Regions from separate parts of the Homo sapiens genome. Here all the other regions are reported to be linked to region 1. Evidence: microRNA targets listed by miRTarBase, many of them from high-throughput screens and not tested one by one. Region 1 holds a microRNA gene; each other region holds the end of a gene's coding sequence.

Region 1 (5,091 bases):
TGACATTTTAATCCAGAGGTGATGCAGGAAATGTATGTGTGATAAAAGCCATGCGATACGTTCATATAGCTCCCAAAGTACCTTGCAATTCATCTACATGACAGCTGTTATTGAAGCTTAAGATCATTAGCACAGGAAACTTGGCAAGGACACAGGACTGGGTTATAAATATTGGCTTCAGATGTCATTTCAGGACAGAGTTAAATTCTCTTAGGATGTAGTAGCATGGATTATATGAGAAACTCCAGTGGGATCCAAAGTTACTTGCGAGATTAATGAATCAAACGAAAGTAAAAGTAGAAAACATAATTTTAATTCACGTTTTTAATTTTAAAAAATTGTAGTAGAGTTAAAAAGGTTTCATTTTTGTTACTTACACATTGTCTAACATCAGGCAAGTTACTTAACTCCTAGGATTCATTTTCCTCCTGAGTGAAATTGAGTTAGATGTTTTCTTGTTGTTTGTTGTTTGCACAGTGCCTAGCACACACTAAGTTCTTCTCCTTCCTTCCTTTTTCATTCCTTTAACTTCCTTAATATTTCTCTTCTTTTAGTTTAATACTATTAGTGTCATTGTCATTTTCACACATTCAGGGACACATTCCCTTACCTATGTTTTCTAAAGATTTTTCAGTTGTCCTTTAAAGAAGCTGCATTTTAGCTACTAGGTAGCTGTATGTAAAGCAAAAAATTGTATATCAAATCACTTCTCCAGTGACGGTCATTTTGAATAACAAATACTATTTATTCAAACATCTACTCTCAGAATGATTTAAGGCTCTTTATACAATTGCATGCATTCTGATAGGCTAAAAAGTGATAAAAATAGAGAGAGAATGAATGACATAAAGTCAGAGGAAAGTTAATACATCAATGAATGCCATAAAATAATACCTAAGTGGGCTGAAAATATGCCTTTGCATTTCCTATGAACCAACGTATATAATAATTATAAACATTAAAAATAAAAACAATAAATAAAGAATAAGGGAAACATAAGTTATTGTTTCATGAGTTATAGGAAAAAAAATTGTAGCTTTACTTTAACACAAGAAAATGGCCTGTGACAATTTCCAGTGTAACACTTAGTTTTGGTATAGCTTAAAGCACATACTTAACAACTGATTCCAACTTGTGTAACATTAATAATTAAATATTCATCTGAAGAAATTAATATCCTAATGTGTGTGTACAATTAATAAAATCTTTGCAAAATGCATCTGGCAATTCTCATGGTCTAGACATATCTGTTAAAATATACCAGTGTTCCTGGTCCCAACACAATTACCCTTTTATTAAGAAAGGTGGCATGCTATTGAGGAAAATGCTGAGAACTGAAAATGAGGAGATCTGTGTTTTAGCCCCAGACATAACATTAACTTTCTGTGTAACCACTGCCATCTTAGGTTAAGTTTTTTGCCTTTGGTACTGTAAAATGTGAGATTGGTAACAAACAAATTCAGCATCCTCTTCCATCTATAAATTTCAGGGAGTTCTCATTGACTTTAATATTTAAGCAGCAGTACTTCATGCATTTTTAAATATTATTCAATTGCTGTCTTAAACTATTCAGGCTGCTGTAACAAAATACCATAAACTGGATGGCTTATAAACAACAAACATTTATTTCTCACAGTTCTGGAGGCTGAGAAGTCCAAGATCAAGACACCAGCACATTTTGTATCTGGTGAGGGGCTGCTTCCTGATTCAAACATGGCCATCTTTTCATGTATCCTCATATGGGGTAAGGGGTCGGGGATCTCTCTGTGGTCTCTTTTATAAGGGCACTAATCTCATTTATGAGGGCTCCCAAAGACTCTCCATCCTAATATCATTATCACCTTGGGGATTCGAATTTCAACATATAAATTTTGGAGAAAAACATTCAGTCCATTGCAGTTTCTAAAACTGAAGATGAAGATGCCTTTTCAGTTTTCATCAAATACAAATGGGATTTTTTTTTAGAAACAGGAATAATCAATCAACAAATCACTAAATGACTAACAGATATATCTGGATCATGTGACTAAGCAAAATGAGACTGGTTAAAATCACTCATTTCACCTGTGGGTATTCATTATAGTTCCCATTTTAAAATGTGAACATGTAAGTAAATTTCAAAGGTCATACATCTAGTAACGAAACAGGAAAAGTTCCCTTGTCCCCTCGCCAGGCATGCGATGCGGGTGTGGCTTGCTACTTCAGTGCCCCGCTCCTCAAACCTCTAGGGGAGCATACAGATGGGCAGGCTGTGGGGCTCCGCCCCCAGGGCTGAGTCTAGGGGTGAAAGTTTACAGCTCCTGAAGCCCCAGTGGGGTGTGTTACAGAGTGCTCTTTTAGTTTGTGGTCTATAGGCGACTTATGTCAGCTCAATTAGACCCTCTACCTTGTCACAAGGACAGAGGGCTTTCTGTATCCCAGGGTTTCTTGCCTTGGTGTACTGGAAGAATTGGTTCACATGTGGGCTTGAAGAATGAGTGCAAGGTTTTACTGAGTGGAAGTAGCTCTCTGCACATGGGGGAGCCAGAAAGGAGATGGTTTTCCCCTGGAGTTGTGCCACTCAGAGGCGCGGGCTCTCCCGGGCTCTCCTCCAACCACCCCAGCCAAACTCCACGTTGTTCTGCTGGTCAGTAGCCTGCCAGCATGCGGGTGCTGGTGCATCCCTCTGAACATCCTGTGCCTGTGTGTTCCTCTGCTGATGTGCTCCTCTCAATGTCCAGCTGCTTCTTCTCTGCCTTGCTAGGGTCTTGGTTTTTATACACACAGGATGAGGGCATGGTGGGCCAGGGTGGTCTTTGGAAATACAACATTTGGGCATGAAGGCAGGAGTGCCTGTCCTTACCTAGGTCCGTGGGGGTGGAGCCCCAGCCAGGGACCACGCCCTTCCTCTACCTAGCACTTTCCTTCACCCCTTCCATATCATTTAAAGGAGCCACGCTCCTCCCTTCCCAGCACTTCCATATCAGTAAGATGGAGTTTGAGTTTAACTTTTTGACTCCAAAAATGTTCATTTGTTTTCTGAACAAGCGATGCTATTGATGACATTGACAAAGGTTAGGGTTACAGTGAAACAAAACTGATTGATTGATTAGATAGAATAGAAAAAAACATATATATTATTCTAAGCTTTTCCTGCCATCATCTTTTCTGGGGAAAAAAAAGAAATAATATAGTTAGTTATAAAAAAGATCCATGGTTCAGCAGATGCTGGTCATATGTCTTAATTTTGTCACTGCCTTTCAAAATAGAGACACAAAGGGCATAATACTTTCAGACTTCAGTTTCCTCATATATAAAATTGCAGAGATTGATCAAAACTATTTTGATAGAAACTATTTTGATCAATCTCTACATTTCATATATTTTAGGCCAGTTAAACTCTAAGACATTTTTAAATAGTTGTAAAATAGTTATAAATAGAAGAGATACAGAAAGGAAAGGAGAAAGGACTAGTGTAATATTTTTCCAAAATACAGCCAGGCAAGAAATTTTAGACTACCAATGACTCTCTTCCAATATCTTTTTCTTTGTACAAAATATACTTCAAAAAAGCAGATGATGACCCCAGTGTGAGGGAAAGAGATTTAACACCTGTTTCACTCATTTTTGTGTCTTATTATATCACCTTGTGTAGAAATGAGCATAACTGATCATTTTCATTAGGTATTGTAAAATAATAAGGGCTTGCAATTAAAGATATGTACTATAAGTTTTGTAACACATTTTAAAATTAGAGCCAATATAATCATAGAATTTTAAATACAGGATGTAAAATAAATGAACTGCTATATATTTCAACAGATACCTTTACTATCAAAACATGAATCTAAATCATCCGTAATGCTAATCTCTTTTCCAAAGTGTTAGAACAAAAATGCCTGTATTATAGTATCATAGTTAGTTGCTGTACTTTCAAAATATTACATGATTAACAGGTAAATTACATGGTATTGATAGTAACATTTCTTTTTTAAAAAAAATCTTTATTCAGTAATATTCAAGGTAACCAGTACCTGGGAGAATCTCTACTCAAAGAAGTTGTAGAAAGAAACCTGAAAATATTTCATGTCTGTTAGGTTATGAACATTTGCATTTGAAAATGAATATCCTAAAGATTTAAGACCAAAAACAAAACTAAATCAAACAAGTTTCCTTAAGCATCCCCATCAATGATTTTTCAAATGGTAATTAATAGCACCAACCAACATAATTCAGGATTGGAGAATCTATGACTCACAATAAAAGCCTCTTTGGGGTGCCTAGGTTAAGAGAACATACAATTATGTGCAACATGAACTTAAAAGGAGCAATTAGAATGAGTTGCTTTTGACACAGACAATCATTTCTGACATTGAAATCTCAAAACATTTCAGAATCACATATTAAGGGAATGTTCATTTAATTAAAGAAGAATCAGAAGATTCAGATATTTATATTGTGTCAGTTTCATTCACTTTGTAACTAGGGTTGGGAATAAAGCACAAAACTTTAAACTGGACATTCAGATGTCACTGCTAACCACAGACTTACATTCTTTTGCTATTTATACCATTTGTTTACTTTTTGCATTTCCTTAGCTTGGACAGGGACTTTCTGCTTCTAGTCAATTTCACTCTTATTTTTGGCTCATAAATAAATTTTCCAGTACTTCTGGAAAATGTTACATCTAACAATTTTTTTGCAAAGAGATGATGGAAACATTCCTATTGGGATTTAATAAACTGGATGGTGAGAGTTGTCACTACTATCCCAAGAGATACCCACAGTAACCAAAAACATGTTTCCCAATTGTCTCTACGAGGTTGACAGCAGTAATAAAGAATATCTCCTCTCCTTTACCTTATCAGCACTACCATGTGATACGACTATTCTATTCTTTACAACAAAGGGTCTCCAAGGTTAGCCTGGCAACAGCTCAAACATACTCCAGCCCCACTTGAGTTTTTTTAATGATTCATTGAGAATTTCTGTCAATATTGTAGCCTGGAGAACTAAACTCTGCTCTCTGCTAAGTTCAATTAACTCTGGTCTCCTGTCAGTAATCAAATTTTTTTACATTTAATCACATCCATTTTATTTAAAACTAAACTA
Region 2 (5,091 bases), not on the chromosome of region 1:
TTAGAAGGGTAGTCATATTTCTTTACTCTTGCTCTTCTCAGCTGTTTGTATGTGTGAAAGTATGTGTGTGTGCATGTGCACATGCATAAAAATAAGAGTGTGAGAGACAGACTTGATGCAGATTCTCATGGGTTATTCTTTTGCAGTTAGCTTTAAGGGCAGCTCCATCCTATGAAGATTTTGTGGCCGCGTTAACCGTAAAGGAAGGTGACCACCAGAAAGAAGCTTTCAGTATTGGGATGCAGAGGGACCTCAGCCTTTACCTCCCTGCCATGGAGAAGCAGCTGGCCATACTGGACACTTTATATGAGGTCCACGGGCTGGAATCTGATGAGGTGGTATGATGGCTGCTGGGCAGCACCTCCTAACTTCAGGGAATAAGTGCTAAAGTGTTTTGTTGCCCTACTTAATTTCCAGCAACAGCCTCAACCCTCTCCAACCCCTTCACCTGGGGGGATGGACAGGAGGTGGCAAAACCCAGTGCTTTTATAATTTTTAAAATGCATATGTGTTTTGTTTAAAGATCAAGGTGCTATATATTTCAGTTCAGCAGGCCTACTGGAAACCAAATGATAAGCTGCTGTAGACTTGAACAGCAAGTTATAAGAGCAGATTTAACAAACAAATTTGCTGTTATTGTGTATTGTATTGTTTTTATATTTTAGTCTAATGGGCCACCCAAACCCAAGCTGAAAATCAGCAAATTCCATATTAAGTACCATAATTCATAGCCAGTGTTTCAGCCAACTTAGACTAGACATTTGGAGGTAGTATAAGCTGCTTTGTTGAAGCTGTGTAGAGTTTGCTGTTCCTAGATGTTCTTCAGTGGACCCTCTTCACTGCAACTCTGTCAGTGATAAGGGCCTGTGTAGTAAAGATGTTCAGGGCATTCACATGACCATGCAATTGTGGGAGGCGAAGAAGACGTGGACAGGAGTCCCATCCTTGCTGACAGGCATGAAACCGTTGCTCTGAGAAGATTAATGGTGTGCCCTAGCCCCAAGTTGGAGGGGAGAATATGAGAGAGGTGGGACAGGTCATTTGAGATGACACCTCCCAACTGCCTACCATTTACCAGCATGTTCCCCATGCATTATCTCAATTGGACATCACAAGTAATGATACCCAGAGGGATTATTACTCCACTTCAAAAGCAAGGTTTAGAAGTTGAGGGATCTGTTCACAGTCACATAGTTTTTAAGCAGAGGAGCCAGATAATTTCCAAGTGTGACCTGGACTGCCTCTGCATCAAAGTCATATGGAGTGCTTGTTCAAACAGCAGATTCCCAGGCCTTATTTTGGCCTAAAGAACCAGAGTCTAGGTGGTGGGACATAGGAATCTGCATTTCAGTAAACTTTACACGTGATTCTTCTGCACACAGTATTGAAGAGCAACTAGATTAAATTCTAGTTTACAAAATTACCAGTTTTCTTCAAGAACTAAATGATATGTCCTTTTTTTTTTTTTCAAAGAGGATAAGGCTGCTATTTAAATAAAATAGCTAAATGGAGAGTGAGAAGTGGAGCAGGTTCATTCAGCAGCATTCTTAATTGAGCCAGCATTGACACCCAGCCAGCAGGCCTTTGCATTGCATTCGGGGACCATGACTCTGAATCTGCTTACCAATCAATCTCGGTTTAATCACCAAAAGTGCAGAGCAGGCAAAATGCAGCTGTTTATCAATCTCAAAAGCTTTGGGACAGTGTCATAGTTGAAAGATGAGACTTAAGAAAACAGTTTCTTAAACTTCTTAAAACTTAAGAAACATTGTTTCATAAAACAATATTGAGTGGGCATTCTTCTGCACAGTGTGATGCTCCAACCCTGGCCCTAGTCTCAGTAGACCATGCTGCCTCGAGTGTGCATCGGAGAGAAGCCATGGGTACCTTCCCCATTAGAGGCTACTTCCTTCTAGTAACAGGAAGGGAAGTTCCAGCATGAGGTAGTTATCCAGGGTAGAAGGTCCTTTGAGGGGCTTGGTTGAATTGAGAGCATCATCTCTAGATGATGCTGTTCCTGCTGCAGATCTCTAGGATGGAGAGAATTCTCTCTTTAGTCAGAGAAGTTTATGTAGGGAGGGGTATTGGTTTTGCCTTTGTGTGTCTTTAAACAAATGAACATTTATTTAGCTCAGATTAATTAGGTATTTTGCCCACATAAAGACTTCTGGAAAATACTTAAACTTGAAAAATCAACATCACATGTTTTAAAGCTAGGGAGAAAGAAGGGGGGTATTAAAATGATGTTGATTATTTTGTATTTTGCCAAGGTGTGTGTGTGTTATTTCCCTCCCACTCTCATGAGCAGTGAGTATAGATCTCCTTCTCTGATTAGTATGAATATGATGGCAGGACTCGGGGATAGTCCCTGCCCTTGACATAGCCCCCTAAAACGGAAAAAGAAAAAGCCAGTTTTTGCTTGTACTTTGAATGAAGATGTTTTAGGCATTGTACCATTTAGCGGGGATGATACCAGGTGGTTGTTAGAATTGTGCAGTGTGATCATTCTAAACAGCTGCTGGTGCTCCCTGTCACCTCAGGTGAACTCTGTGGTCTCTTGGAGAGGTAGCACTCTGAAAATACCTCAGGTTTGCCACCGCAACTCTGAATACACACAAAAGGAAAGCTGCTCAGCATGGCCATTTTGCATTTGTATAGGTAGTGACTAGATGTACACAACTTAATTTGCTGGGAATGAGGGGCTTAATATTATCTGAGATCATTGAGAACCCAGATCAGACAGAATAGCTTGAATAAGTTACATTTTCCAATTACCCTTTTTCCACATCTGTAGAAAGAGGGTAATATTTTTTAATAGGTATTTTCCCCACTGGAGCATATTACGTTTGCCTAAGATGTATAAAAGTTTGTTTAAGATGTGTAAAAGTTTGCTTAAGGAACTGAGGATCCTTAAATAAAAATATTAGAAATTAGAAATTGAACCTAATACTAAACAGTAAATTCAGCTTAACCTGAACCTTGGCATAGTCAGAGCTTCCTCCTACATCTAAAGTATTTGCTCTCTGTTTTAGTTAAAGTCATAATTTGCGCTGATGTGTAATCACTTTCCAAGAAGAGGGCAATGAGAAAAGATATTTAAAGCTTTCTCTCCATAGCCCTCCAAGACTTCTGGGACAACTAAATTTACTTTCACCATTACTGTGAGAGGAGGTGAGAAAACTCTAGTATTTTGTTGGCAGAGTAATCACTTTGTTCTCATCGCTCAAAGCATTTTTAGGATTATTTTTCTAGCGTAACCTTTAGAGAGAACTGGAAGAAAAAGGAAATTGGTCTACTAGGTATTGTAGACACAAATAAGTAACATTAGGCTAACCCCTTATGAGACATTTCCACACAATTTCATCGTGCCTGTACTTTTCTCTATGGTAAAAGCCAGTGTTTACACTTTGTAGGGATCAGGGTGTATTTGTTGAATTAAACAAAATATTTTCAATGATGGCAAGTCTCTTGACTTTTGAAAGCAAGTCAGATTCCTTATAGCTAATGCTGGTGAAAAATGTTAAATTGGAGAGATCCCTTTTGGGAGTGAAACCAAATTGTAACTATGAGGAGAAGATGGTCTTCTCATTGGCTCTTGATGTAGCTCTGAAGGGAGTTCCAGAAGAGGAGCTCTCACAGAATGTTGAGCCTGTGGGCCCAAGACATTGACTTCGAAGGGTAGTTCTCATTAGGATGTATAAGTAGTGGCTTGAGGCACCTTCTTATCATTTTTTGCATGTTATTCTGATTATTAAACTTCCCCCAATGTCATATTCCATGATGAGGGATTTCTGAACTCCATAGTCCAGCGTTGTTGCTTTTCTCTCTTCTTTGCTACTGAAAATTGCCAGCAGTACCGCCATCAGCACACCAAATCTACCCCCACTTATGTTTGTTCTGCCCCATTTCCCAGGAGCAGCTTCTAGCACATATGTAGAGTATCTGGCACCACCTTAGCCCAGGGCTGCGTGCCTGATCAGTGGGGATTCTGTTCCCCCACCCCCCAGACTGCAAGAGCTTCTTAAGAAGGAGCCCATATTCCCATTTGTAGCTGGAAAGCGGGTGAATGACATGACATGGGGCACCTAGGAAAGATGATTATTAGAGGAGTGCAGCGGAAAAAAATTTGCACTCTTCTCCTTTTGGTTATTACTTTCCAAATATATTAACAAAAAGTTGATGCTTTTAACTTTATATTTTCAGAAAAGTGTTTTTAATTAAAAATATGTGATAGGGACCAAATAAGTAAAGTACATTTTTCTCCACTAAATTTGAAGTGAGGGAAAGAGGAGCCAAAGTAAGAGATTTTTTTTTAAGGAAACTTAATCTGATTGTGAAAATCATACATATGGAGAAACATCAGATCAGGCAATAGAGTCAGAGGGTCATGAGCAATAGACGATGATGCGAGGCATTTGGGGAGCTTCCTGGAGGAAAATTAAGTTTTTTTCCTAGCAAACTACCATGTCCTACAAGAACTTGGTTATATAATGGTGCGTCTCTGAATCACTGATTAAAACCAGTTGCTTCTGATTTTAGTCACAGGTTTTACAAGTATTCAGCTCTCCCTCATGTTTCATTTCTTTTTTTAAGATAATCTATCAACCTTTTTTAAATTTTAAAATTTTTAGATGTAGAGTTTATAAGTAAAATATATTTTTAGCCATTGTTCTGTTAGCTGAGCTGATGTGTTTGGTCTTAGAGGGCCTGACTTCAGATACTCTTTGTGATCTTGTAAGGGCTCTACACAAACTTCATTATGTATGGTAAATTTGTATTCTTATGGATTGTATATAGAATGCTTTCGTTAGAAGTACATTCTACTTCTGTATGTCCCTTTGTAATCCGCAGTTGCTTACTCAGGGGTTTCATAGTCATTTCATAAAAAATAATTCACTAGCTGTCTAATGGTATTTTAAGACTGTTTATCTGTATCACAACGTCATTAGGAGTTCTTTCAACAATTCCATAAATATACTGTTTACTAGACCTTCCCTGTAAATGTTCCCAATTCCCATCCTGTCTCAGACAGTCAATAGTCCTGTGTACAGTGACTATTTGCATGATTTCTCATTGCACTGCTGCATTCAG
Region 3 (5,091 bases), not on the chromosome of region 1:
TACTATCTAATATACTTTATCCAGGGATGCTTCTCACTCCAGGCCTTAATCTTCATATTCCAACTTTGTCCCAGTCCAATACTTTTGATGTACAAAACAAAAACAGTGACTTAGGCTCGTCTAAGTCTGTAGAAGTAAAAGAAGAAGATTCCAGAATTAAAGATCAGGAAGACAAAGGAGGAACTGAACCAAGTCCTCTCAATGAAAACAGCACAGATGAGGGTTCAGAGAAAGCTGATGCTTCATCTGGATCTGATAGTACATCGTCGTCATCTGAGGATTCAGATTCTAGTAATGAAGACTGATTCCCAGACTCTGCACTTAAAATATGAACTGATTTTGGATTTTTTCTTTAATAATTAATTGTAAATACCCCAGTGTTGAGTGCATCAATAACTTACTGACCGAACATTTCAGTTATTTGTTTAGAAGTGCAAACTGCTTTCAGAGACTTTTTGCATGTAATATTTCTTAAGATTCATAAGTTTCTGAACTCGTATGTACTATCAAATACATAAAGGTGTAAAATTACAACAAAAGGCATTATAATTTTGTTGGGGGTTAATTTTATGAAAATTATGCTCAATAAGAGTTGTATATTTAATATATTTGCAGTGAACACAGAATACTTTATGCATATTACTGATTTAATTTGAATATAGTTTTACAGCCTCCTTGACACCTATAATTTACAGATCAAAACTCAGCAATAATTTGGGCAGCTAATGAATGTCATGAAAGCTGTAGAATCTACATCACCATCCATTGCTTTAATTACATGAAAATGCTCTAGTGTTGTGATGCACTGCTGATGTTTCCAATTCAGGTACAAGTATGTTTTAAAGAAGAAATAAGTTTCCCAATCAGCCAATTTAACTGGCTACCTGTTACCTCAGCTGAGTTAGTTTAGGAAGTTTACATTCGTTTCTAATTCTATACTTGTTTTCAGGGGTTTTTTAAACACATCCTATATATCATGTCAATCTGGCAAGAAATATGACTTGCTTTTTGCTGAGCTTAATTCAGATATCAGTAAAATTAAGTCATAAAATAATCATGTGTCATGTGACTTTGGCACCCTATAGACATACTTAGTTTTAACTTTTCAAAGTTTGGCCTCCTATTAGAAATAATCATGTCTCAGATGAGTAATGTCTGTTTCCAGGGTTCAGAAAAGGCAAACTCATGAAATGCCACTGAAAAGAACTTTCAACACAGCATACTTCATGTAAAAGAAATTGTTTGTTTGCTTTCTTTGTGTAGATTTCTATTTGTGTTTTATGTCATGGAAATATTCCAGAATTAACAGATAATAGTGGTAAAGTAATATGCAGATAGTCTAAATTCATTTTGAGTTTCTAGGTGTAAGCAGACTAAATGTTGCCCAGAATCAGTGTTGGGTTATCAGTTTATATTAAATATACTGAGTTGCCCGTTTTGAAAATGCACTTTGAATAATCTCAAAAAGATGTACAAGTTATACCTGTAAACCACAAAAGTGAAGCCTGAGGCTTCTGTTCAATTTCATAGACTCCTTTACCATGTAAAATTTGTCTGATATTTGATTTGTGATACAATTTCTCCTGCTAAAGCTGCTATTATTCTGACAAGGTAGAGGTCCAGGTTCACCTTTATATATATTTAAAACAATTAGTACTGAATTGGACATAAAAATATTGACATTCTAAGGAGAGATATATGTTAGCATTTTTCTGGTACTCAAATAAGTTAGTAGTAAAGTCTGCAAGGGCATAAATTTAGGGGGAAAAAGTGTCCCAGTTCTCTCCTACAGAAAAAATACTTTCAGTATGTTTTGATAAAACTGTTGCTTTGTCATGAGTTAGTCAATTGTATCAGGTTTTCCAAGACCTTTACCAGTAAATTATGTTTCTGTATGTAAAATAACCCCTTATTAGAGAGACAGTGTTATATGTATTTACAAAATTATATAAGTTCCATTGGGATTGTATTGATTTTGTATTTTCCCAAAATAGTACTTTGAATTGATAGTCCTTTATGCAATGTCTTAGCAATAGTCTCTATAATGCCCATCCAGGAGAAGTGGGTAGTAATTCTTCATCATGAAAATGATATATTACATATTTAGTATCTTCCCTTTGCAGTATTGCACTTTTGTTTAACTAGAATACACCTATGAGATAGCCAAAGTTTCAAACACAGTTATCTTAGTTTACCGGTGGAGTATTTCAACACCAACCACATTTCCCTTCCTCCCTCTAATTCTACCCACATGATCTTTATTCCTTCCTTTCGCCAATTAAAAAAAAAAAAAAGGAAAAAAAATCTGTAGATCTTGTCACTAAAATCTAATTTATATCAAATTTATGAGAGAAAGTATTTTCCTAATTATGGTCAAATAAATTTGGTTAACATCCTAGTGATTCTCTTTCTATATAATAAGGCAATTACAGTTTTCAAAGCATTAAGTCTAACATAACTTTAAACATTCTCTTAGGTTTCAAGACACTTCTATTTAATATTCATTGGGGAAAAGTTGTCCAGCTATCAGCTAAGAAAACACATGCAAATATGGTTGTGTAAAGTTAAGGGTTATAAGGAAAAAAAAATCAGTAGAATTACATAATACTAAAGTTGCAGTTGAAAGAATATCCAAGTATGTGTTGGTAGTTACTAAAAGAATTATAGCTGTTATTGCCTTGTATTTATAGCCCTTGTTTCAGGTTTTATGATTCAAGTCTTAGTCCAATCTTTCTTTTGGACATTTGCAATATTTACCAGTTGTGTTTTGTGTAGTCTGAATTTGCTTTCTGTAGTTGAGCAAACGTCTTAAAAAGTCATTTGTAATTTATTAAATTACTTTCTATGATGTTCTATAGAGCAAATGGAAGTTTAATTATTTTTTATTAAACATATTCTTTGACTACCCATGATGTCAGCCTCTGTACATGAGAATACTTTTTAAAATTGAATTTTATATAGAATTTATCTTATTCCAGTTATGAGAGACACCATAGTTGTAAATCTTTAAAAGGAAAATATACCGTGGAAGAATTTTTAAAACAAAAATTGGCTATAATTTTATCCACAGTATCTTAAATGCTGTCAATTTTTCATTTTGATTTAATTTTATTAATATTGTTCATTGTGGATATTGGTGACTGCAAAAAAAGCAAAAGCTGCTTCTTGGGCATTCAAATTGTTAAACCCCAATTTTGCAGCCCAATCTCAACTTCATGCTGAACATTAAGTATTATTTTCTTAAGTTTTTGGACTTTTAAAAAACTCAGAAATACTCAGAGATATTCCTCACCTCTTTAAGAAGTCCATTTTGGAAATCAATAATTATTTTTTTCCCTTAGTCTTAAGAGTGTTTCCTAACTCATTGCCATGGGTAGTGTTCTTCGTAAACATTGAAGAAAATAGTTTTTCCTCTAATTACACAACTAAAACAGTGGAGTCTCATACTCATTTAACTTGAACACATTCAACTACACTTTCATGTTTAGAAAACCTTTTTTTCATTTTTGTACAACATAACATATAAACACAAACCAACTGCTTCATCTAGTACTCACCCAGAGGAACAGTAGTCTGTTCCAGTGTTGGAGGAAGAATTGCCTATGTTGGACATTTTTGAGAAGAGATATGAGGTATAAAATGATGTATTCTGTAATTTGTGAGCTCTGTGAGAGAAAAGAGTGATTTTTTTTTTTTTTATAAAGACAAGGTCTTGCTCTGCCTCCCCTAGGGTGGAGTGCAGTGGTGCGATCACAGCCCACTGCATCCTTGACCTGTTGGGCTCAAGCAATCCTCCCTCCTCAGCCTCCTGAGTAGCTGAGACTACAGCATGCATCACCACAACGAGCTAATTTTTGTATTTTTTGTAGAGATGGGGTTTTGCCGTGTTGCCCAGGCTGATCTCAAACTCCTGGGCTCAAGCAGTCTACCCATCTCGGCCTCCCAAAGTGCTGGGATTACAGGTGTGAGCCACCACACCCAGCCAGAAATGATTTTTGACTACACCTAATATTCACTTTATACAATAAACTTAGAACTTAATCTCTATATAAGCTATTTATTTTAAAATTCAGAAAAGCAAAAAAATATTTAAATCATTCATAAACTAAAACTACCCAGAGATAAACACTGTCAGTAATATATTCAATCTTTTGTATATCTATGTTATTTACATGTAGTGGGTTGAGTAGTGTCATTCAGAAACTGATGTCAACCTAAAACCTCAGAATGTGGCCTTATTTTGGAAATCGGGTCTTGGCAAATGTAATTAGTTGTAGTCATGCCGGATTAGGGTGGGCCCTAAATCCAATGACTAGTGTCCTTAGAAGAAGAGCAGAAGATACTCAGAAACACTGGGAAGGCTGTTTTGTGATAAAGGAGACCGGAGGGATGTTCCTACAACTAGGGAACACCAAGGATTGCCAGCAACCACCAGAAGCTAGGAGAGAAGTAACAAGCATTCTCCTTCATAGCTTCCGGAAAGAACCAACCTTGCCAACACCTTGATTTGGGGTTTCTAACCTGAACTGTAAGAGAATAAATTTCCATTGTTTTAAGTCACCTAGTTTGTGGTAATTTGTCATGGCAGCCCTAGGAAACTGATAGCTTTTCATATTAACTCAGTGTTTTATGGTACATAATTTCTACCTGCTGTAGGCTTTGAAAAAGAAGAAAAAAAACTTGGTGCACTGCCCTTAATATACTGACCTATGTCAAATAAGAATCCTGCAATGTAATTTTTAATACATAGTATTGATTCATACAGATGTAATTTATTTAATCATTAATTTAAAATGGATATTTGGGTTTATGTAGACATTTTTGCATCCATCCCTAAATAATTTGCTTAATTCCTAGAACTGAAAATACTTCCTCTGTTTTTAAGGACTTCAGTTTATGTTTCCACGTTTATAACGAAGCTCCTAGTAGCTATTTATACTAACATTAGCAGCATACGTTTTGCGCATGCCCATTTATTCCCAAATCTTTGCCAATGCTGTGTATTGTCTTTTTAAATAATCTTTGCCAAATTAATAGGCATAAATTATATTTTGATCTTTAAAATTAACTTATTGTTCTTTTTTCCTAGTT
Region 4 (5,082 bases), not on the chromosome of region 1:
GTCTTTGGCGGCCTGCACAGCCTGCAGTACCTCTACCTGCAGGACAACCACATCGAGTACCTCCAGGACGACATCTTCGTGGACCTGGTCAACCTCAGCCACCTGTTTCTCCACGGCAACAAGCTGTGGAGTCTGGGCCCGGGCACCTTCCGGGGCCTGGTGAACCTGGACCGTCTTTTGCTGCACGAGAACCAGCTGCAGTGGGTCCACCACAAGGCGTTCCACGACCTCCGCAGGCTGACCACCCTCTTCCTCTTCAACAACAGCCTCTCGGAGCTGCAGGGTGAGTGCCTGGCCCCGCTGGGGGCCCTGGAGTTCCTCCGCCTCAACGGCAACCCCTGGGACTGTGGTTGTCGCGCGCGCTCCCTGTGGGAATGGCTGCAGAGGTTCCGGGGCTCCAGCTCCGCTGTCCCCTGTGTGTCCCCTGGGCTGCGGCACGGCCAGGACCTGAAGCTGCTGAGGGCCGAGGACTTCCGGAACTGCACGGGACCAGCGTCCCCGCACCAGATCAAGTCACACACGCTCACCACCACCGACAGGGCCGCCCGCAAGGAACACCACTCACCCCACGGCCCCACCAGGAGCAAGGGCCACCCGCACGGCCCCCGGCCCGGCCACAGGAAGCCGGGGAAGAACTGCACCAACCCCAGGAACCGCAATCAGATCTCTAAGGCGGGCGCCGGGAAACAGGCCCCCGAGCTGCCAGACTATGCCCCAGACTACCAGCACAAGTTCAGTTTTGACATCATGCCTACGGCCCGGCCCAAGAGGAAGGGCAAGTGTGCCCGCAGGACCCCCATCCGTGCCCCCAGCGGGGTGCAGCAGGCCTCCTCGGCCAGTTCCCTGGGGGCCTCCCTCCTGGCCTGGACACTGGGGCTGGCGGTCACTCTCCGCTGAGGACCCAGGGCGTCAGCACCCAGCACTGCCACATGTCCACCAAGGAACAGAATTTATTTTCTTCTTTTTTTAACAAGTGGAAGATCTGCTGGGTTTCAGGAAAAGGCTGGTAGAGCCTTCGGCTGCTGTCTGGACGTCTGGACCCTGCCATGTGGATTATAAACCCAAAGTGTACAGCCCTAGGCGGGAGGGGGTGGCGCTTCTCAGCCGGCTGTCCCAGCCAGCCCCGCAGAGCGCCCACGGACAGTGTCCACTCTGGCAAGGTGGGAAAAGGCACTCCAAGTGCATCCTCCACTGGCAACAGTGGGACAATTGCCCCCGACGGCGGCACCGGGGCTCTGTGGAATCCCGATCGTTCCGAGAGGTCTGGAGGGCCCCGTGGTTCCTGGAGAAAGCAGGACGCAGAGAAGAACAAATGAGGCTCACCCACGAGGCTGGGTGGCCAGCAGTCTGGGCACACACGAGCAGGTGGCATCTTGGCTCTTGCCTGAGGCCAGTCACCCTGCCCTGAATTCTATCCTACTCCACCTTCAGCCCCTCCCTCGGGGGTAGCGCCTCTCATTCCTGATGTCTCAGGCAACCCTGGCAGACCCAGGTCCAACTGCTGGGGTCCAAGAACCAATTACCAAAGGAAAGATCATCAGAGGCTGAAATCTAGAACTTCATCCCGGGCAATGAGGTTCTCACAGAAGGTGCAGTTTTATAACTAACTACGTCCACTTATATATATTCACACTCTACATATATATATATATATATATATATATATATATATATATATATACACAAATGCACAGTCCCCCTCCCACTCCGTTACCTAACTGTACGTCTTTTCATGTTTATAAACTATACAGAAAACTGTATTTGCTGAACTAAGGATTGTATTGGTGATTTCTAGCAAAAACAAAGTGATAGAATTTTTGTCTAGAATCCCAAACTGGCAACGATAGTCTCCAAGGGACCTGGCCTTGCCAAGGGCCTGGGGCAAGGTGTCGGCGGGACGGTGAGGAAGGGGGAGGCAGCAAGAGTCACTTTGGGGGACCAATATTCTTAGATATTTAGAGCATCACCTTGTTTTTATATGCAACACAAGCCTGTCTGCCACCCTGGAGCGCCCTGTCACCCCTGCTGTCGTAGCTGTTGGCTTCAGGGTGAGAAGTGAGAAGCAGCTTATTGTATATGAGGGAGCCAGGCCCCGAGGGTGAGCGAGATGGAGAAGGGGAAGGAAGGGGCTTTGGGATCTGGAAACCAGCAGGCCAGGCAGCATCCACAGTGTTAGTCCAAAGGGTCGGACCGTGTCGTCAGCCTAGCGTTTGGTCAGTGACGGCCTGGACGGGCCAAGGAGACTCCGGGCTTGAGCCCAGGCCTCCCGCACGGCTCAGCTGCTGAATTTTTCCTTGAGGCTGTTTGGTGTGTGACCCAGCAAGGGCCCTGTGTGGGACAGCAGGAGGGAGGCGTCGGGGGCCTTAGCAGAAGGGGAACAATGAGGGCATTTCATGAACCATCTCAGGCACTTCTGCATCACGGAAGACCTGGCCCTCCCAGCCGTCCTGGGGATGCTCAGGGTGCAGGCAGAGGCTCGGGAGGCCGGACTCAGGGGTCAGAAGCAGGGACTGGGGCAGGCGAGCCCGGACAGGGAAGAGGGGCTCCGATCAAAGCCGGCCGTGCTGCTGGCCGGGGGCCCAGGTGGGTACAAGCTCCTTTGTGCTTTGCACAAACCTGAATCCCCCACCAGAGAGGATGTGTGTGAGGAGCCAGAAACGCTGAATCCAATTAAGAGAGAAAAATAATAATAACAATAAATGATCTTGGACAAGAACCCTGTTTTTCATTTCCTAACCCCGCATTCCCGACAGGTGGCAGATCCTGGGCTTCTGTGGGTGGGCGAGCCTGGCCGGGCACAGCTCTGGGAACACAGCACATTTGTTGGCGGGAGGAGCCGCAGGGGGCAGGGGCGCACTGATTCACGGGACACATGAGAGCACGCACACCCTGGTGCTCCGTTTCGTGGCACTTCCCTTGCCCGCACAGATCATGATTCACTTTCCACATTCTGACTGCCCCGGGTCGGCACCATCTCCGTGGCTCTCCCCGGAGGAGGCTGGTCCTGGGTCCTTCCTGGCCTATTCCCGGGAGTCTCCGGAGCAATGGCTAAGTGACTGATCCTCAGGGCGCCCGGCAGGCGGCTGGTGGGGACGGGCGGCTGCAAGGAAACAGTCAGTACCTGGGGCCCAAGGAGTTTTCCAGGAGGCTAGGGACCCACCCGGACAGCTGTGGGTGGGCTTGGAGACTGCACACGTCTCTCTGGCTTCAGAGAAAGGAGAGGGTTCCCCGGATAGAGGGAGGAAGGCTGTGTTTTCAGGCCTGGCTGGACAAATCCTCCTCAGTATGAGGCTTGGGGCATTCACTAAAGGGAGCCCAGTGACTGCAGACCAAAGAATCCTCAGCCTGCACCTGCTCCCCTGTGGCCTGCAGGCTCTGACCCAGGCCGAGGTGCTAGGGCCTGGCTGTCCCTTAGAACCCAAGGATGTTGTTGTGTTGTTGATTTCATTTCCAGCTTCAGACAGCAAGGCCCTCAGTGGGAAAATCAAGAGTCTAAGCACTTTATTAATTTTTTTTTTAAAAAAAGACTTAGGAAGTCCTGTAATATGGAAGTGAAATGTCAGTACGAGAAATGCTAATGTTTTATAAATGATCCGCTTCTGTCAAGCACAGCACAGTCTCTGGTTGCCGACTGTTATTAGAGGCAAGGCAGTGGGGGCCCAGGACGCCAGGTATTTTTAGCAGCTTTCTCCTCTAAGAGGTAGGGGGAATCAAGGCAGCTCTGTTGCAGACGACATCAGTTGTCACTCAGCAGCTCATGCTACGCAGTTATGATGACACCATCGCCCCAAACATCAAAGCAACTGGACGCGTCAGGGGCGAGGCAAAAGCTTCTCTATTCGCCAGCTCCAGCCCCTTGCGTCTGGTTCAGGGCATGGAGATGCAGATTCCTGTGGTCTTCCCAGAGGCGGGGGCCACCCCTCCGCTGCCATCTTCCCACTTTCCCTGGACCCCCAGAGGGAGTCATCTCTTCTCCCTCCCAGCCCTCCTGCCACACAGGCCTCCACTGTGGACTGATGGGGACAGAGCCACCCCTGTTGGAGGGGCTGGGTGGCCACTGGTGGTCTCCACTGTGGACTGACGGGGACAGAGCCACCCCTGTTGGAGGGGCTGGGTGGCCACTGAAGGCCTCCACTGTGGACTGATGGGGACAGAGCCACCCCTGTCGGAGGGGCTGGATGGCCACTGGTGGTCTCTAAGGCCTTTCACACAAGCTCCTCCCCTGACCCCAGAGCTTGGCTGGCTCTGCATAGTTCATTCAACAAGGGCTGATCAGGGACCTCCGTGTCCAGCCACTGGCCAGGCTCTGGGGACATAAACGTGAGAAGACGTGGCTCGGGGCAAAAGGAGCTCAGAGCCTAGATGTAGAAACAAGTATTCGCAACTGGTATGGAGTTGGCGCTTGTGGTAGCACCCCTCGGCCCCCAAAATGAGGAGCTCAGCTGGGTGGGGGCAGTCAGAGAGGGCTTCCAGGCAGAGGTGACACTCCAATGAGTCTTGGAGGATGAGGAGCCACCCAGAGAAGAGTGTGGGGAGTAGGGCTAGAGGTGGTAACAGCACTGTGTCTGGGGTATCCACAAACCACTCCCAGCTGAGGGCATGGGAGACGCGCCCTGTATGGGAGCGGCCCAGGGGACTCTGCTCAGGGACTCCACTCTGCCGTGGAAGTGGAGGGGCTGTGCGGTCCCCCCGACCTGGTCGTCCTCCCGCCCACCCCCCCCAGCCTGTCCATAGGCACGTGGTTTCTGACCGTGGCAACCTTGCCGCGGTTCTTCAACAGTGGGTTTCATGGTGGAAACTTGCCTCCTGGGCTCAGCCAGATCCTCCCCTGGTGCCAGCAAGCTGGAGCGCTCGCTGGAAGTCTGCCTGGGCCACAGGCCCATTCCCAGACACCTGCTGCTTCCAAGCTTGGGAAGCATTCCACGGCCTGCGCTCCCTGCTTCCCAGCCGCGGCCGCCCTCAGCCCCTCCTGACTTCGGAGCAGCTCAGATCACCCCGGCGCTTCTGCCTGTGCGGGCTGTGACCATCAGCCAGCCCCAGAGCCCCTCCCACCAACCGCACCCCTCCTCTCCTGCCGGGGCT
Region 5 (5,000 bases), not on the chromosome of region 1:
CCCAGGCCCCTGCACAAGCAGGCAGAGCACTGCACATAGGCCTGCCACTCCCTGCTGGCCTCCGAGCTTGCTGCTGAGGACGCCTGGGCTGAGGGTGCACAGGAGTGGGTGTGAGGCCTGAGATGTCCCACTGAACCCTCACCAGCTTTCAGGCAGGCCCCAGGAGGGGGCCAGTGGACAGAGGAGCCCTCACTATCACACAGGCTCTTTCATTAAAGACAACAGTGACAGTCATTGTAACAATGGCCATCTTCTACTGCGTGTCTACTGCGTCTTCTACTGCGTATGCAGGCCAACAGCAGCTCACAGAATCCCAGGTGCGAGGGGCGCTTGTAACAGGAGTGCCTTTAATAACTTCCATGTTCCCTCCATGTCCCTGATGCCTGGGACACAAGCCCTTCCCTGAGTTCCTGCACTGAGCTCCTGTCCCCTGGGCTGTGAGCCCAGTTAGGGGGATATACCTGCCCACTGGCTCTGGGCACACAGGGCTCTTAGCTGGCCCTCACTGAGCTAACTCTGAAGCCCCAGGGAAGCCAGGCAGGGGTGGAGAGAGTCTGAGTTGTGGCCCCTCGCTTGTGCCCAGTGGCCGGGCCTTGAAGGCACCAGGCTGGGTTCAACCCCCAGCCCCATCCCTGTTTCCTGGTATGTGCTTGACCTTGGCCATTGTGCTCCATTTCTGACCTGTCTCCTCACTCCAAACAGGAGGATGAAGATGCTGCAGGTGCAACTTTTTCTCTCTTCCTACATCCCTCCTGGCCCATCACACCGGAAGCTCTTCCCCACGGCTGCTTCCTGTGAGGCTTGCCTGAGGGTGAGGCTGGAGCGGGGAAAACAAAGCAGCGGGGTGGTGGCGGGAGCTTGAGCCTGGGGGGCCCTGTGCCCTTTGGGCCCCTCTGCGTGGGGGTGCAGGGCAAGCCTCCATTCTCCATGCAACTGGCCAGGTAAGGAGGCTTTGCAGAGCAGCCTGTGGGTGCTGAGGTCTACACATGGGGTGGACATCCAGGAGGCTGACCCTGGCCACCGTCACCCTGTTGGTGTGGCCGGCTGATTCCTGCTCCCTGTGATTCCTGTGAGCACTTGTCAACTTAGGGCGACCTTCTTGTCCCATTTTCCCCAGATATCCCCGGTTTTAGCCCTGAAAGTCCCAGGTTCAGGAGAATCTCTCAGTCCCAGGCAAACTGGGAAGGTTGGTCGCCCTATTCTCAATTAAGTCAAGGGTCAAGGCGGTGGGTGGCAGGCTGAGGGACAGAATTGGCCTTTGAAAGCCCCATAAATACCGACCCTGGGGCGTTGGGATAAAACATACAGAGATATCCCATGGAAGGTCCCCAGCCCAGCCCTGGGGTATAGCAGGACCCTAGTGAAGGATCCCCCCATCCCTCAGGCCGGCCTTCTCCTTTCCCCCACCCCACAAATGACAACTGACAGACATCTCTATATTTTTATTGAAAATAAAAAAGTCATGGTGCTTTCTTCCTCATAAGTGGCATATGGACACCCCCAGTGCTGCCGGTCTCGCTTCCGGTACAAAAGTCTCAGCAGGAAACCAACCTTAATGGCTTGTTGGTGGATAAGACGGCATCAACTTGTACATTTGCCCATTGAGAGAACTCCCAGGAGCAACTGTCCTCTCTCCAGTACACGCGGCACGTTGCTAAGAAGGCAGATTTCAGGATATTCACATTCATGCATTACGTATCTCACACTACCTGGGCAGTTTAACTCATACTTTGTACAGATGCAGAGAGTACAGTAGTTGTATTTATATATATATATATATGTAGAGATCTCTTTAAATATATATAGCTATATATAATATATATGTTTATATGTTTACACCTATTAGTCTTTCTTCCAAAACTTCCTTTAGAAGCTTCTTAGGAACACCTGAAACCTCTGGGAGATCCTATGATCTGAGTTCCAAAGTTGGGGTCAACTGTGAGACGGCTGGAAAAGATCTATTTGAGAAAATGAGAAGGGAAGTGCATTTCATTCTTGACCTCAGGGCTCGGACTAGCCTGAGGATCGGTGTGTGTCTAGAGACTGCCGGCTCATTTTAAATAAAAGTTCTAAGCTCAAATACTAGGCCGGCAGGGTTTTAAGTACCCTTATGTCTCTGTAAGCTCAAAATCTAGTGGGTCTCCCTTGCTGTGCCGTATACTTGTTTTTTGAATGGGCGGTCTTGGGCTTGAGGTGGGGGGTGGATATTAAGTGAATCTTTTAAAAAAACTAGGCTCTTCCCTTGATTTTTGCTAACTGGGGTGAGAAGGGATTTTACAAGCCCAGCTGAGAGGGAATTTATGTGCAGACTAGAGCCCTGGATGCGTCAGCGGCTCAGGGAAGAGGATACAGGCCCCAAAACGTGGTGATGGCTCAGCTGATTCCTCACCAGGGAGCCTCGCCTGGGGCTGGAAGATTAGGCTAACTGCAAAATCCAGGCCTCCTAGGTTTAAGCCAAGGTAGGGAATGATGGGACCAGGCGAGTGTGCGCAAAGCTGGGCTGTGCCCAGCCCCTTCAGGCTGCCCACCACTCCATGGTCCCTTAGCCAGGAACCTCCCCTCTTAGAGAAGGTGCCCTCTGATCACTCCTGAGCTTCTGGACAGCCCAAGGCATGGGCACTTTCTCATGGTTGCAGCACAGGGTGGTGTGTGCTTAGGGCTAGGGTCCTGCCCAGGGGTCTGCTTAGGGCACAGCTTGGGGGTTCAACAGGCACCAGAAGGCTGAAGGCAGTAGGGGAGAGTGCCCTGGGGTGGGGTCTGCTGGGTTTCCCCCTTTAACCTGCTGCTGGCCCACACCCTCTGGCCTATTTGTCAGCTGGCTCCGCACCTCAAGAGCACTGTGAAGTACTGGCCAGGTCAGGAGCAGGGGGTGGCACTATGCTGATGCCCAGGTGTCCAGGGGAAGCAAAATTCAAATCTAAACCCCAAACAAGTCCTCAAATAGAAGGAAATGAGGAAAGAAGAAAACCCCTTTATGGGAGGGTATGCCCTGGGCCTGTCCTCAGCCCACACCTGATGACCTGGGCAGGACAATGACACACAGACAGCTCCGTGGGCACTAGGACTCTGGGACAATGGGCTTTTTAAGGTTCGGCCCAAATGGGGACCGGTTTTCAGGTGTGTCTGTCTTCTCTGGACTTCAAAGTCTCACCTGTAGCTTAAACACCTATCAGAGGAGCACACTGGAGGTTTAGGAGGCAAACCAGGTCTTAGAGGGCTCGACAGTGGAACCATTCAATGCATTGGGCTCCTTCTGAGCACATATGTAGGGGTGGTGGGGAGAGCCAGGGGGCCAGGAGTGTCCCACTCATTTTCCAGGAGATGCAAAATCACCCTGTCTCCGTGGGTTTCCTGATGTGGCCCACAGGGAAGGCTGCCACTTGGGAGACAGGCCAACAGGGCAGGGGTCACCAGCCTGGAGGACCCCTCTCCTCCTGTCCCATTTCATCCCTTGATCCTCCAACCACGCTGGAGGGCTCAGCGCTTCTATAGCATGAGACTGTGGAAACAGACATTGAAAGGAAGACCCTGGAAGAACAACACCTCCTTCTTGGCGACTGGGGCTCGGGGTAGGGTAAAATGGGGAGATGATGGAGGACTCTGGGAGAGGGCCTGAGTACAACAGTCAGGCCTCAGGGGACTGTGGGGGACATCCAGCGCCTGGCCAGCATCAGCCTGGTACAGCAGGCCCACAGTGGATTTGGCACAAGTAGTGGCCTCTGCTGACTAAGGCAGGGCCTGGCTCACACAGATGCATCAGTTCCTATGGGGTCAAGTGTGGGGATGAGTCTGAGGACAGGTGCAGTGGCCTCTGCCCTTGCCCAGTGGCCCTGGGCTGCGGGTTCAGTGAGTCGTTTTGCCCCCGGAAGGCCAGACACTGCCCCCGAGTGTAAACGCACTCCTGTGTCTGCTCAGGAGGGGATTCTGCAGGCTGGACTCACAGCCCTCCATGGCAGGCAGTCAGGAGCCTAGGGTGTAGGGTGTCAGTGGGGATAGGAGGGAGAAGGCAGGCCCTGAAGATTGACAACAACTGCAGATGGGGCGATGAACAGATGTGTGGGAAGCACCTTTGAAAGGGGACGTCTGTCTGCTGGCTGTGCCGATGGCTTCTGTTGAGAATGTGAACAGTGGAGCAGGCAGGCTTCCTGGGAGGAGGAGAGGTTTTCCGGCAGGGAGTGGGCTCCGGACCATCTTTCTTTTGGCTAAAGGGGGAAGCCTCCCTGCCACAGTAGAAAGACAGATCCCTCTGGCTTCGCCAGTGCGCATGCTTTAGACAGCAGCTGGGGGCAGTCGACAGACCAGACACCAGACAGGGAGGAGGATGTGGAGGGCCTGGGGTGGGGACACTGCCCAGGTGCTGCGCCGGGCTCAGCCTGGTGTCCGAGCTGCCTGGGCCCGCAGGCTGACCAGGGGCAAGCCTGGGAAGACAATGGTTTCTCCTTCGGGAGGCTCAGGGCCTGTGAGGCAATGAAGTCCTGGACAAGCTCAGGGTTAGCTCATGTCCACCTGCTTTCCCATGTCCACCAGTGCCACCAAGGTGTCCCTCTGGCCAGCGGGTCCAGGGCCTGCAGACTCACACCACTGCGTTGTTCACGTCTACTCCTTTGTTGCTCTGCGAAGCACTCATGGGATACTCAGCAACGCTGGTGCCATTTTCGTCTTTTCTCAGTGGTTTCCTGGAAGTGGGGGGAGGGGACAGGAAAGGCAAAGGAGGGGGAGGCAGGGACACCATTAGTTATCACTGATGGTGGGGTGTAACCTCCAGCTAGCATCCCTGCTCCGTGAGAGTGTCAGAAGGAAGCCAATGGCTCTGTCCTCGGTTAGCATCCTTGGGCTGCTAGTCCTTGTGGGGTTAATCAGAAGCTGGACGTGGTCTTAACTCGGGTGTCATGAAAACCGGGGCACAGTTGAGAGGGAAAGAGGGGAGCTATTAATGATGAAGCAGGGACAACAGGTATGAGTCCAGGCTGTTTTGGACAAACAAGAAAGTATGTTCAGTC
Region 6 (5,091 bases), not on the chromosome of region 1:
AGTGTGGAAAGTTCTTTAGACTTACGTCAGCCCTTATTCAACATCAAAGAATTCATAGTGGTGAGAAACCTTATGAATGTAAGGTATGTGGGAAGGCCTTTAGACATAGTTCAGCCCTTACAGAACATCAGAGAATTCATACTGGAGAAAAACCCTATGAATGCAAGGCATGTGGGAAGGCCTTTAGACATAGTTCATCCTTTACCAAACATCAGCGCATTCATACTGATGATAAACCCTATGAATGTAAGGAGTGTGGGAATTCCTTTAGTGTTGTTGGGCATCTTACTTGCCAACCGAAAATTTACACTGGTGAGAAATCATTTGACTGAAATAAATGTATAAAGTGGTTTTTTATTTCTGATTTTCACAGGAAAATACTGTGGATGGATTTAATAGGTAATCAAGGCAATTCAGTATCTCCCTCTCTTAAAGTCTGTTTTTAGACTTCATGGTCATTCTGTATGTAGACGTAGAATTGCTTAGTCATAGCTGATATATACTTATAGCTTTGTTAGATGTTGCCAAATATTTCTCCTTTTTATGTTAAAAAGTTTTTTTCATGAGTTTCTCATCCTGGCATGTTTTGTTTACAATAGCTTTTGATGTTTGTATTATTGCTCTTTTGACTATTCAGTTTTTTAATTGTAATATTACTTCAATATCTTTTCTGCATTGTAATTCTTTGCTTGTGATATCTATACTTACTTATTTTCCTCCACAGAGTTAGCACTCCTAGTCAGATACAATGTATTTTTACAGTCTTACAGCTCATCATTTTGTGTAATGTTGTTTTGTTTTGTTTTAAATGATAGAAGTGTGATCTCCTTTCCATTTTCATCCAATTGTTGACTTCTCTTTAAATTTCTACTTTATTTTGATACAACATATTCCCCCCAAAAAAACACATACATAGGAACTGGTTATATTCCACCATAACACACACACACACACACACACACTATATACATATAGTGTATATACACATATAGTGTATATAGTGTATGTGTGATGTATACTATACATATCACATATACTATATGTGTGTATATAGTGTGTGATGTATATGTGTGTGATGTATACTATATATGCCCACACATGCACTACATAACACACTATATATATATATATATATACACACACACACACACAATATATGTATATATAGTATATACACTATATACTGGGCACTATATATATATAGTGTGTATGTGTGTTATATTGGAATATAACCAGTTCCTTTAAGCAGTCTTTTTACCTGCAGGCTATACCAACCAGGATCCAAATGAAGAGAACTCTTTTAAATATTTGATAAAACTACTCACCCAGTAAGTCTCTTAAAATTTATCATTCTCTTAAAGTATCACTCTAAAATTTGTCAAACACCTTTAAAAGGGGAGAAAAAATGACCACTGAACTTACATTAAGAGAATTTACAACTATATATTAACATGGCTTCAATTGTTTTTTTAATCTATTATCATTATTTTTCTTTTTATTCCCTCTCAGAGTTGACTTACTAGGTTTGGGCATTTCAACAATCAGCAGACCTTCTTTGGTTTAACTAATCTCATTTAACTCCAAAATCATCTCTCTCTTAGGACTGCTGACTTGGTTATGCAGTCAATGAGATCACGAGCCACTGGTTATTGGATTTTTTTTCTTTTTTTTTAGACAGAGTTTTGCTCTTGTTGCCTAGGCTGGAGTGCAGTGGCGCAGTCTTGGCTCACCTCAACCTCTGCCTCCCAGGTTCAGGCTATTCTCCTGCTCAGCCTCCTGATTAGCTGGGATTACAGGCATGCGCCACCATGACCGGCTAATTTTATATTTTTAGTAGAGACGGGATATCTCCGTGTTGGTCAGTCTGGTCTCAAACTCCCGACCTCAGGTGATCCACCCGCCTCAGCCTCCCAAAGTGCTGGGATTACAGGCATGAGCCACCGCACCCAGCCTGGTTATTGGATTTATTTATTTATTTTGAGATAGAGCCTTGCTCTGTCACCAGGCCGGAGTGCAGTGGTGTCATCTCAGATCACTGCAACCTCCACCTCCCAGGTTCAAGCGATTCCCCTGCCTCAGCCTGCCAAGTAGCTGGGATTACAGGCATGCGCCACCATGCCCAGCTAATTGTATTTTAGTAGATATGGAGTTTCACCACGTTGGCCAAGACAGTCTCGATTTCCTGACCTTGTGATCCCCCTGCCTCGGCCTCCCAAAGTGCTGGGATTACAGGCATGAGCCACCACGCCTGTCCGGTTATTTGATTTTTATAAGAAAATTTTACTATTATTTTCAGATAAATTTATGTCACTGTCATTCATTACATTTTAATTTTTGAAACTGATGTCTTTCCCAGAATTTATGTACTCTATAACGGTGTGAATGATTACCAGTATTAAGCCATTTTCTCATCTGATATATTGAGCTATGTTTTATGTAAGTATTGCTTATTCAAGTAGTTTTAAAAGATATGTAATTGGTTGTTGTTTCATGTCCTACACAGTAAGAACAAGAGTATGTTAACCTTTTTGTCAGGATATTTGCTATTTCATATCTTTGAAATAGAGTAGTAGCTCTATTTCTAACTAAATTCTATTTATGTAACAACACAGCTAATTTACTCTTGGATCTCATTCTCCCTTTTTATCCTGAGTTACCATCAGTGCTAATGTTCCTCTTTTGGGTATAGTTCTCCAGGAGAACTTGTCCTATATTTCTTTGTGTGTGTTTTTTTCCTTCCAGCTTAAACAAATTAAAACTAAATATCTAAACCTTGTATACAGACATTAAAATTAGTGAGAGAAACAAAATATCCTTGTGTCTTGGCTTTTACTTTTTGAAGTCATTAACAAATAATAAATTAATGAATAAAATGTGTCCTTATTATGTTTTCCTTGTTTGTAGTTACAGCTATATTTTTATCATATTAACATTTTTCACTTAACTTCGTAATGAACTTATGGCATTTCACACTTACTCGAAACCATAATATAATTATTATTGGTGGTATTACTGTTTGGTTTTTACTATTTTTACTCAAAAACATAAAACTTCACCATTCTTTCCATTTTCATTTGCCCCTTTATTCTTTCTGACTTTTCTCTAAGCCTGCATAGGAGCTTTATTCTCATATTCAATAGGATAGGATATTGCAGTCTCATCCTGTTTTCTGCTGTCCTGCACCATTAAATTTTATATGTCCTTGAAGGAATTCAATTTAATGGCAACTAATATATGTATGTTAGGGACAGGTAAAGAGTCTGTGACTGAGATTTCTGGAGTTATATAACCCCTGCGCCACCCCCCACCCCAACTCCAACTTGCCAGAATTCACCCCTTAACCTGCAATGTGATTGTATTTGGACATAGGGCAATGAGGACATAAGAATGTGATTCTAATTTGATACAAATGGTGATCTTATGAGAAGAGGAAGGAGAGACGTCTCTTCCTATGCTCACACACAAAGGAAAGTCCACATGAGGACACAAGGAGAAGCCAAGAGAGCCCTTACCAGGAATTAAACCTGCTAATCCCTATTTTAATTAGAACAGTGAGAAAATAAATATCTGTATTTAAGCCTCACAGTCTATGGCATTTTCTTACAACACCCTAAGCAAACTAAGACAGTTGTTGGTACTGAGAAGTGGGGTGCTGCTATAACAAAAAACTAAAAATGTGCAAGTCCAAGCTTTGGAACTGGGTGGTGGGCAAATAGGCTAGAAGAATGCTGAGGGTAGATGCTAGAAATATGGATGTAAAAATGATTCTGGGGAGGACAAAAAAAAAAAATAGAACCACTGGAGAGAAAGCTTCCATTTTAAAGAATCCTGTCATGAACGGTATTCATGTTAAAGAAACAATCATGAACAAAATGTTGGTAGAAATATGGACATTTAAGGCCATAATGTTTTAGTCTCAGAAATGAGAAACAGGTTATTGTAGCAAGGAACTTGGCTGAATCATGTTCTAGTGTTTTGTGGAAGGTAGCGCTTCCAACCAATGAAAACTGAATAGTAGCGGAGATTTCTAATTATTGAACTTGTGGCTTGGGTTCCCTTTATTGCGCATATAAAACAGGAAAGGAGAGAGATGAATTGAAGGAGGAATTCTTAAGCAATAAGAAACTAAAATGTGAAGATTTGGGAAATTCTTAACCATACTGAGAAAAATGAGGAAATGTGTATTTTGCTGTTTTGGGGTAGAGTGTTGTGTACATGTTAGGTGTTGTTAGTTGATAATCTTCCAGTTTTCTATTTCCTTCTTGATCTTCTGTGTAGATGTTCCATCCATTATTGAATGTGAAGTTTTGAAGACTCCAACTGTTGTAGAACTTTTTTTTTTTGCCTGCAACTTTTTGTAGTGTTTGCTTCACTTCTTTTGGGGCTGTTTGGTGTGTTTGTGTTTATAACTATTATATCTTTTGATGCATTGACCGTTTTATCAATATATAATGTGTCTTTTTTGTCCCTTGTAAAAATTTTTGACTTAAAGTCTATTTTGTTTGATACTAGCATAGCCACCCTACCTCTCTTTTGCTTAACTATTTGCATGGAATCTTTGTCCACTCCTCTCACTTTCAAACTATTTACAGTTTGGGATTTATACTGAGTCTCTTATGGACAGCATATAGTTGGATCATTTTTTTTAATCCATCTGGCAATCTCTGCCTTTTAATTGGAGAGTTTAATCAATATACATTTAAATTAATTGCTTGTAAAGGACTGACTTCTGCCATATTTTAATTTGTTTTGTGTATGTCTCTTTTTGTTTCTTAATTCTCCCAATATTGCCACCTTTTGTGTTTAATGGAATTTTTTCTTTTTTCTTTTTTTTTTTTGAGATGGTGTTCGCTCTTGTTGCCCAGGCTGGAGTGCAATGGCACAACCTCAGCTCGCAGCAACCTCCACCTCCCAGGTTCAAGCAATTCTCCTGCCTCAGCCTCCTGAGTAGCTGGGATTACAGGCATGTGCCACCACGGCCGGCTAATGTTGTATTTTTAGTAGAGACAGGGTTTTTCTGTGTTGGTCAGGCTGGTCTCAAACTCCTGACCTCAAGTGATCCGCCCGCCTCAGCCTCCCAAGGGGCTTACA

What was found. Region 1 holds the annotated microRNA hsa-miR-3668 (AAUGUAGAGAUUGAUCAAAAU, at 3,335-3,355, opposite strand). A microRNA usually pairs through its seed, bases 2 to 8, with sites in the 3' UTR of a target mRNA and lowers its output. Matches are read on the target gene's strand: a 7mer-m8 pairs with bases 2 to 8, a 7mer-A1 pairs with bases 2 to 7 and ends in A, and an 8mer does both.
Region 2: the mRNA of PLEKHA8 is a reported target of hsa-miR-3668. The part of its 3' UTR that is shown has no 7-base or 8-base seed match.
Region 3: miRTarBase lists CHD9 as a target of hsa-miR-3668. Seed matches in the 3' UTR shown: 7mer-m8 at 750-756.
Region 4: miRTarBase lists RTN4RL1 as a target of hsa-miR-3668. Seed matches in the 3' UTR shown: 8mer at 1,634-1,641.
Region 5: miRTarBase lists PRIMA1 as a target of hsa-miR-3668. Seed matches in the 3' UTR shown: 7mer-A1 at 3,263-3,269 and 8mer at 1,778-1,785.
Region 6: miRTarBase lists ZNF529 as a target of hsa-miR-3668. Seed matches in the 3' UTR shown: 7mer-A1 at 1,104-1,110.

What each region holds. Positions count from the first base shown.
Region 1 is chr6:140,203,524-140,208,614 of GRCh38, reverse strand. It overlaps MIR3668 (microRNA 3668), which reads right to left and starts at 3,363; the gene lies at 3,289-3,363.
Region 2 is chr7:30,078,444-30,083,534 of GRCh38, forward strand. PLEKHA8 (pleckstrin homology domain containing A8) reads left to right here. Exons shown (of 14, transcript NM_001197026.2): 14 at 147-5,091. The coding sequence ends at 344. Among named protein-coding and RNA genes, the nearest start is that of PLEKHA8, 53 kb to the left of the region's middle. RefSeq lists an enhancer at 2,377-2,903.
Region 3 is chr16:53,324,591-53,329,681 of GRCh38, forward strand. It overlaps CHD9 (chromodomain helicase DNA binding protein 9), which reads left to right. Exons shown (of 39, transcript NM_001308319.2): 39 at 1-2,907. The coding sequence ends at 305. Among named protein-coding and RNA genes, the nearest start is that of RBL2, 110 kb to the right of the region's middle.
Region 4 is chr17:1,932,311-1,937,392 of GRCh38, reverse strand. It overlaps RTN4RL1 (reticulon 4 receptor like 1), which reads left to right. Exons shown (of 2, transcript NM_178568.4): 2 at 1-2,716. The coding sequence ends at 897. Among named protein-coding and RNA genes, the nearest start is that of RTN4RL1-AS1, 83 kb to the left of the region's middle. RefSeq lists an enhancer at 4,611-5,082.
Region 5 is chr14:93,716,871-93,721,870 of GRCh38, forward strand. It overlaps PRIMA1 (proline rich membrane anchor 1), which reads right to left. Exons shown (of 5, transcript NM_178013.4): 5 at 1,428-4,676. The coding sequence ends at 4,574. Among named protein-coding and RNA genes, the nearest start is that of PRIMA1, 69 kb to the right of the region's middle.
Region 6 is chr19:36,542,107-36,547,197 of GRCh38, reverse strand. It overlaps ZNF529 (zinc finger protein 529), which reads left to right. Exons shown (of 5, transcript NM_020951.5): 5 at 1-3,585. The coding sequence ends at 332. Among named protein-coding and RNA genes, the nearest start is that of ZNF260, 16 kb to the right of the region's middle.